2 separate regions of the Homo sapiens genome follow, and region 1 is linked to region 2. Evidence: fine-mapped expression QTL. Tissue or cell type: lung. Region 2 holds a variant in brackets; the other region holds the start of a gene. All regions are shown on one strand. Distances are from middle to middle. Region 1 holds the start of MYO1H (myosin IH). Region 2 overlaps MYO1H (myosin IH).

What was found. PIP is the estimated chance that this variant, and not a neighbour inherited with it, causes the effect.
Region 1: MYO1H starts here. The variant in region 2 is the best candidate, but not a certain one, in a credible set for the expression of MYO1H in lung (TOPMed, PIP 0.59).

The regions. Positions count from the first base shown.
Region 1 is chr12:109,346,103-109,350,499 of GRCh38, reverse strand. MYO1H (myosin IH) reads right to left here and starts at 2,600. Exons shown (of 32, transcript NM_001101421.4): 1 at 2,528-2,600. The coding sequence starts at 2,539.
Region 2 is chr12:109,431,649-109,436,045 of GRCh38, reverse strand. It overlaps MYO1H (myosin IH), which reads right to left. Exons shown (of 32, transcript NM_001101421.4): 20 at 3,036-3,149; 21 at 933-1,009. Among named protein-coding and RNA genes, the nearest start is that of KCTD10, 43 kb to the left of the region's middle. RefSeq lists an enhancer at 1,777-2,281. The variant A/G (reference allele first, on the strand shown) is at 2,393.

The DNA.
Region 1 (4,397 bases), 86 kb after region 2:
AGCCATGCCTCACATGGCGGCAGAGAAGAGAATGAGAGCCAAGCGAAGGGGGTTTCCCCTTATAAGACCATCAGATCTCATGAGACTTATTCACTACCATGAGAACAGTATGGGGGAAACTGCCCCCATGATTCGATAATCTCCCACCGGGTCCCTCCCACAACACGAGGGAATTATGGGAGCTACAATTCAAGATGAGATTTGGGTGGGGACACAGCCAAACCATATCAGGAGTTTATGGATTCCCTACAACCCAACTAACTTGGAGAGAAGAGGCAACTGCCCAGATGATTTGCATAAAGTGAGCTTTTGAATGAATCACCTGCGAACTAAATATGCTACCATGTGGACAATGACAATCAACGGCACGAAGCAAATGCTCGCTAAAATCAGCATTGTTATTCATGGTGCTTCAGTTCTTCATTTTGCTTTGTTCATCAAACTCAGCTCCTTCTGAGGTCATTTCTGAATGGTTCCATCTCTAATATTTAATATAATATAAAATAATATAATAATAATATTAACTTTTTTTTTTTTTCAAGACAGAGTCTTGCTCTGTCGCCCAGGCTGGAGTGCAGTGGCGTGATCTCCGCTCACTGCAAGCTCTGCCTCCCGGGTTCACGCCATTCTCCTGCCTCAGCCTCCCGAGTAGCTGGGACTATAGGCACCCCCTACCACGCCCGGCTAATTTTTTTGTATTTTTAGTAGAGACGGGGTTTCACCGTGTTAGCCAGGATGGTCTCGATCTCCTGACCTCGTGATCTGCCTGCCTCGGCCTCCCAAAGTGCTGGGATTACAGGCATGAGCCACCGCACCCGGCCTCTTTTTTTTTTTTTTTTTTGAGACAGGGTTTCAGACTGTCATCCAGGCTGAGTGCATGGCATGATCACAGTTCACTGCAGCCTTGATCACCCTAGCTCAAGTGATCCTCCCACTTTAGCCTCTGGAGTAGCTGGGACCACAGGCATGTGCCACCATATCTAGCTACTTTTTAATTTTTTTGGTGGGGGGGTCACACTATGTTGCTCATGCTGGTCTCAAGCTCCTAGTCTCAAGGGATCCTCCCACCTTGGCCTTCCAAAGTGCTAGGATTATAGGCACAAGCCACCATGCCCAGCCCAGTTTGTTCTTTTTTAATCTGGAGTAAACTCTATCCAAATAATGTTTTACCAAAGGAATCTGGGAATTAATTCATAAGAAGGAAGAGCTTCCTCCATTTTTCAAAAAAGTGTAACTATGTATAAGTCAATCTGCATGGTTACTTCTACGTGCATTTTGTAAAGCCATGACAATTTAAAAAAAGGCACATGCGACCTTGAGGACAGACCTATCTGTTGTCTTTCACTGCAAGACCTACAGCAAATACTCCTCTCTGTCCATCAACTAAATTATTTTCTCCCAATGAATCATGCTTCCTAGAGTTACCACTTTGAGATATCATGCAAGAATGGCATCTAAAACCAGGACTTTGTTATGGGCATTCAGATACATTTTCGGTCAAGGACAGTGCCATTTTGAGTTACCAGTTGCCAAGGTGACAGTATTCAGTGCTATAGAAATGGGTAATTGACTGAATGGATCAATGACAAGCTGTAGCTAGGGTTTCTTCATGGTGCCTGAGGCTTCTGTGAACAGCTACGAAATTATTCTAACTACATCCATAAATGTTTCTGTAAGCTTTTTGGCTGTCTAGGCAAGAAAAGAAACAATCCTTCAGCAGATAATGTTTTCTAAACAGAGAACACATGAGATGATTATGCTATCGAAACCCAGAAAACCTGTCCTTGGAAGTCTTTATGCTTAGAATTAACTCCTGGAAAGAGGCAATAGGTTTGACACTCAAGTTCTGTCTTCCATCTTCCCAGGAGAGCTTTACCATTGTCTACCTGATAATAAAAACAGCTGTCTTAGCTTCTTAAAATGATCATTACCTGGGACAAGTTGGGCTTATCGCATTTAAAAGGAAACACAAGGTATCTAGGGTAATGAAGAAAATGTACCAATAGTCTTACATGTAAGGCCAATTATTACCTACAATTTCCTTCAACATGAGGTCACCATCTATTATTTAAGACCCAACCATGCTAACACAGTAGCCACTAGCCACATGTGGCTATTTAAATTAATGAAAATTCAGTCAAATTTACAATTCAGTTCCCCAGGAACCAGCCACAGTTTAACCACTCAGTAGTCACACATAGCCAAGAGCTCTTGCATTAGGCAGTGCTAACAGAGACCATTTCTGTCTTTATTGCACAGCACGCTGTTCTAGACCAATGTGAAATGAATCGGTAACTCTCCCATGCTTTGGTTCTAAATCATCGTACTTGCCCCCAGCAACAGAAGGGAGATATCTACATGATCATCTTAACATAGAATTTTTCATCAAATAAATTCAGAATCTTATTCACACGCCCAGTTCTCTCTCCAGGCCTAGCAGAGGCCCAGCATTATAGCCATTTGGAAAGTTCTTGGTAGAAAAGAGGTCACCAGGTGTAACCACCTTCTAGTGTTCAAGTCACATTACCTTGGATTCCATCACGCACAGAGGGAGAGCAGGTTGTTAACAACTATTCCTCTTGAGCCATTCAAAAGTTGCTTCCCACTGACTTATGATTCTGTGATGCCTGACATCCAGCAACAAGGTATGAGGCGATTCTAGCTTGCGGGGTGGAGCTAAGTTAATAATTTACGGTGGGAGGCAGAAACTGCATCTTATGGCCGTCTACATGTAGGCACACCGGGCTGCTCCAGGGAGATAAGAACTGGAAACCCAACCTCCCTTGAGTTTACGTTACAGACACTGCTGATCTTTGATTAGTTGCTTATGTTCCTGACCAGTCACTGACTATTGAAATAATGGCAGGACCCTCGGTGAGCTATGCTTAAAAAAAAAGAAAAAAAGAAAAAAAAAAGAAAAGAAAATTCTCCCAATCTCTTAGCCTAGGATCCAGCTCCAGGGAACTCCTGCTGGAAGTACCTGTTGGCTCTGTTTGAAAAACTTTACAGCCTTAAATTTCATGGAATCAAGTTGATTGGGTAACTTCAAGGTTTCATAATACGGAGACTCAGGACTTTACTTTCATTTTATTATTATTTTCAGATGCTGAAGTGATGCAGGGGCACTATCATCTCATAAAAAATCACAAGGTTGCTGATATTGGAGGCTGTTCAGTTACAGATGGGTTTACCATGAAGCTCAGAGTTCACCCCTTCCTGGTCTGGGCCTCATCGTATAAAGTTCTATTCTTGTTCTTTCAGACAACCCCACCCATCACCCACCACATTGTATGCCTTGGGCCCCCAAACTTGAGCCTGCTGCTGCAACAGGATCATGGCTAAGGGTATGGACAGTGGATTCAGTGCTGGGTTCATTCGAACCTAAACAGCACCCCCTGTTGGATGGAGGACTGTGGGTCCAGCGACTGACCTCAGGATTTCATTTATTAATCCCATTTCATGTATCTCTCTCTCTGTATATATATCCTATTGGAGAACCCCTAACACAAGCCCTGACAAGAGCAGAAATATGCTAATAATTCTTTGGACACTCTAATTTTTGATCAATTGACTTTTTTAAAGAAATGATTCCATTTTTGTAACTGAATAGGTAATATAACATATCCTTGATTTGGTTACAAAGGGACAACCAGAAATAGTATACTAAAAATGTTTTTTAAAAATATATAATTTTATAGACATATATTTTAGTTTTTAAATATAATTTATTTTTTTCTTGAGATGGAGCCTTGCTCTGTTGCCCAGGCTGGAGCACAATGGCAGGATCTCAGTTCACTGCAACCTCCGCCCCCCAGGTTCAAGTGATTCTCCTGCCTCAGCCTCCTGAGTAGCTGGGATTACAAGGCACCCGCCACAACGCCCAGCTAACTTTTGTATTTTTAGTAGAGATAAGGTTTCACCATGTTGACCAGGCTGGTCTCGAACTCCTGACTTCAAGTGATCCACCTGCCTCAGCCTCCCAAAGTGCTGGAATTACAGGTGTGGGCCATCGCGCCTGGCCTATATGATTCTTCATACATTTTTGCATATCTGAAATATATTTTTAATTGAAATATAAATCACGTATAACATTCACTTATTTATACAGTTCATTGTTTTTTAAGTACAGTTGTACCTCAGTATCTGTGGGGGATTGGTTCCAGGACCTTCAAAAATCCATGGATGCTCAATTGCCTGATATAAAATGGCATAGTATTTGCATATAACCTATGCACATCCTCCTGTACACTTTAAATCATTGTCAGATTACTTATAATACCTAGTAGAATGTAAATGCCATGTAAATAGTTGTTATACTACATTGTCTAGGCAACAATGACAAAAAAGTGTCTGTACATCTTCATACAGATGAAAATTTTTCCCTGAATACTTTTGAT
Region 2 (4,397 bases):
CTTCTACATCCTGCATCCACCCCCTCCACACAGCAATTTAGGTCCTATCAGAGGCCAAGCTCATCAAGAGCCTTGCAGAGCAGCCACATCCTATTCCCCACGAGCTGGTTAGAGATGCTGGCTCAGGCCCCACTGGCCTAACTGTGGCCCTTCAACCAGATCCCCAGCCATTGGTGCCCACTGCTACGGAGGTCAGAAAATGAGACCACCAAGCCTTGAAGCCAGACAGACCCAGGTTCAAACCGCAGCTAGGCTGCTTACTTGCTGTGTAGCCTTCAACAAGTTACCAACACCTCCGTGCCTCAGTTTCCCTGCATAGAAAGCGGAGACGATAGCACCTATGTCACCTCCCTTACAGGTCTGTTCTCAGAACAGAATGAGACCATGGTTTAAAGGACTTAGTGTTCACCTGGCGCACAGCAGGCCCTCAAATGACTCAAGCGTAGTTCTTGACAGACCGGTTACATTTCAAAAGAGACGCTCCCTCCCCCCGCAGTTTTGATTTTTTACTTTTTGCATTTCCCCATCTAACTTTTCTCATTGACCATTCCCAGCAAACACCCAGGCTGCAGGCTTTGAAGCTAAACTTTCCAACATCAGACACGCAGACAAGTGAAGTTTTGTAAACTTTAATTTCAAGGGGCTGGTCTCTCACGGTTTTACACCCTAGTAGTGAACAACAGAATCTGATCCAAACGAGAACTGAAACGGCGGAACAATGTTTATATATCTGCCTGCATCTGTGACTGACCTCCAAGCAGTCATTAAAGCAGAAATTCACAGGGATCTTATCATAATCCCATATCTCGTTCCTAGTTTCCAAAGCGAATGCTTCTAACACTATATCAAACACCCGTGTTTAAGATTTACCCCCAAGCTCCACTTGTTCATTTCATATTCTATTGAAATCGGGACAGAAAAAGAAATCATACCTAGTTGATGTTTACTAAATTCAAAGGCATCTTCGGTAGCAAACAGAGTTCTGGGGAAACGAATGAATATTTTGGTTCTAGAAGTGAAAAGAAATGTTTTTGTTATTAATTGGTCAGTTTACCATCTAGTGGGTTGAACGGTGCCCCCTTCAAAAATTCATTTCCACTCAGAACCTCAGAATACCATCTTATTTGGAAATAGTGTTTGCAGATGTGATTGAGGTAAGGATAGAAATGAGCTCATCCTGGAATAGGGTGGGCCCTAAATCCATTGAGAGTGTCTCTATACACACAGAAAGACACAGGGAGGAGCCCACGTGAGGACGGAGGCAGAGATTGGAGGGACACGGCTACAGCTAAGCAATGCCAGGAGCCACCAGAGCTAAAAGAGGCTCCCGCAGGAATGTGGCCCTGCCAACTCTTGATTTTTGGATTTCTGGCCTCCACAACTAGGAGAGAATAGATTTGTTTTAAATCAGCCACTTTGTGATCATCTGTTACGCAGTCCTAGGAAATGAATAAACCAACGTAACCTGAAGTTGCTTCAAGTTATGTTGCTAGGCTTTAAAGAGTGACGACAAAGAATATGGGTGTTTTTGTTTGTTTTTTGTTTTTGTTTTGAAACAGAGTCTCAGTTTGTTGCCCAGGCTGGAGTGCAGTGGTGCAATCTCGGCTCACTGCAACCCCCATCTCCCAGGTTCAAATGATTCTCGTGCCTCAGACTCCCGAGTAGCTGGGATTACAGGCACCAGCCACCACGCCCAGCCAGACAAATAATGTGGATCTAAGCTTAAAAGAAGATCACGCTGGGCGCGGTGGCTCACGCCTGCAATCCCAGCACTTTGGGAGGCCGAGGCAGGTGAATCACCTGAGGTCAGGAGTTTGAGACCAGCCTGACAAACGCGGTGAAACCCTGTCTCTACTAAAAATACAAAAATTAGCCCATTGTGGTAGTGTGCACCTGTAATCCCAGCTACTCGAGAGGCTAAGGCAGGAGAATCGCTTGAACCCAGGAAGCGGAGGTTACAGTGAGCCGAGATCATGCCACTGCAGCCTGGGTGACAGAGCAAGACTCTGTCTCAAAAAATAAAAAAATAAAAAGAAGATCACAGTAGCCAGCAGAGAGAAGTTACAAATACTGACCTCACATTGCCTGCCCGACCCCAGGCCTGGTGAGGGAAAGTTCCCAGGGCAGCCACTGGGGACAGCAGTGGGTGGTGCCTGGTGATCCCACTCTCCCTTGTCCCTGTTTCAATTTATGGAACAGGGGACAGACGGATCCCACCTCTGACCTCCATGCCCTGCCTCCCTCAGGATGTGCTGAGCCTTGCAGAATCCCCTTGGAGATCTGGACTGACTAAGTAACTGATCCTTGGAACAGGCCCAGAATAGGAGTCTACAGATGGAGAGAGGCCAAGGCGGCCCAGACGACCATGTACAAGTGGGAGTTAGGAGTCAGC[A/G]GGGAAAGCCCATGAACAGGATCACAGGCAGAGCTCTCTGGAGTGGGGAAGCCCTGCTGTCGGGGAATAGATCTTCATGCTGAGACACCTTTCCCTGCAACCTCATTAACCCTGACCAAAATGACGCACAAGACGGACTCGGATCTTCCCGATTCATGTCCCTTGAGTTGTGCCTGAAAGCTTTCAATGTGTACGAAAGTCTCTGCTCATGGATAACTACAACTCTACAGTTAAGAGTTCCAGCACACCATTTCTGAGATGCTACAGATGATCTCACATTGTCTAGGTCCCAGTAGCTCCTCTGGCAGGTCATGCGTACATGGGAACAGTGAAAGAATCCAGGCACACGGACGTTAGGTGCCCCCTCTGGTTCCCTCTTTGTTTTGCTAGCAAGGAGGCCCATCTGCTAAATCAGTTTAGTGCGGAAGTTTCCTTTATAACTTCATTTCCTCCCACCGGCAGCACCATAGCTCTTCTAAAGAATTAAGAGCTGCATTTACATCGAGTAGATGAAGCATAAATCTCGCAAATCTCCATAAATCCCTAGGAATCGAGTCTCCAGGCTCTAGATGGATACGGATCAATGCACAAAACCCTTTGATGTCAAGGGAAGAGACCATTTGGTGGTCTTCTGGTCACTTACTTGCCTAACTTGTATTCCTCGGGTTTGTAGCCGATGTACTTGATCAGCCGTTCCACGCCCTCTGCTGGAGGCCCGTGCCAGTGCGGCCAGGTGTCTGGGCATAAGGACTTGTACCTAGGAGAGGAGATGGACATGGAGAAGCTGTGACCGTACCTTCCTCTAGCCCTCCCCCACATCCCCGGCCCCAGAGGCCTGCTGAGCACTGCTGTGGCATGTCGGCCACTCAGTGTATGTAGTAGTCCCATTACACGAACTTTCTCGAATTCAAAGATGGGTACTTTGCAAGAAAGAAAGGAGAGAGAAACTGTTTCAATATAGTAGGGAGTTTGACCTGTCTTTGTAGAACAATGACATCATCAGACGCTCAACCCAGTGACTCAATTCCACTCCTAGGTATCTGTCCAAGAGAAATGAAAAGGTGTCCGAACATTCATACCTGAATGTTCATAGCAGCCATTGGGTGTAGCAGTGCATGGTGCTATGATTCATAATAGCCAAAAGGTGGAAACAACCCAGATGTCCATCGACAGAAAACTGAACAGACAAACAAACATAGTCTAGTACCAGAAGAAAAAGTTCTATGCTTGAGACCGGGTATGGTGCCTCATGCCTGTGATCCCAGCAATTTGGGAGGCCAAGGCAGGAGGATCACTTGAGGCCAGGCATTTGAGACCAGCCTGGGCAGACCCCGTCTCTACTTAAAAAAAGGCCAGGCGCAGGGGCTCAAGCCTGTAATCCCAGCACTTTGGGAGGCCGAGGCGGGCGGATCACAAGGTCAAGAGATCGAGACCATCCTGGCTAACATGGTGAAACCCTGTCTCTACTAAAAATACAAAACAAAATTAGCCAGGCATGGTGGCGGGCACCTGTAGTCCCAGCTACTGGGGAGGCTGAGGAAGGAGAATAGTGTGAACCTGGGAGGCGAAGCTTGCAGTGAGCCGAGATTGCGCCACTGTACTCCAGCCTGGGCGACAGAGCAAGACTCCATCTCAAAAAAAAAAAAAAAAAAAAAAAAAAATTTTTTTTTTAGCCAGGTGTGGCAGTGTGCGGCTGTAGTCCCAGCTACTCAGGAGGCTGAGGCAGGAGGATCGCTTGAGTCCAGGAGGTTGAGGCTTCAGGGAGCACTCCAGCCTGGGTAACAGAGATCCTGTCTCAAGAAAGAGTAGAGAAGAGAAAGAAAGGGTTCCATGCTTGGGAAGTGATGAGGGCTTCCCCCGTCCCCCAGGGGTAATTTTGGCTCCAGTGTTAAGAACCTGATTCCAGCATGCAGTTCCCTTCTACCCTGCAGTCCCTAGAAAGAGAACCGTGATGTCTGTAGTATAATGAAACAACTGAACGCAGAATTCAGAAGTGCAGATGGAT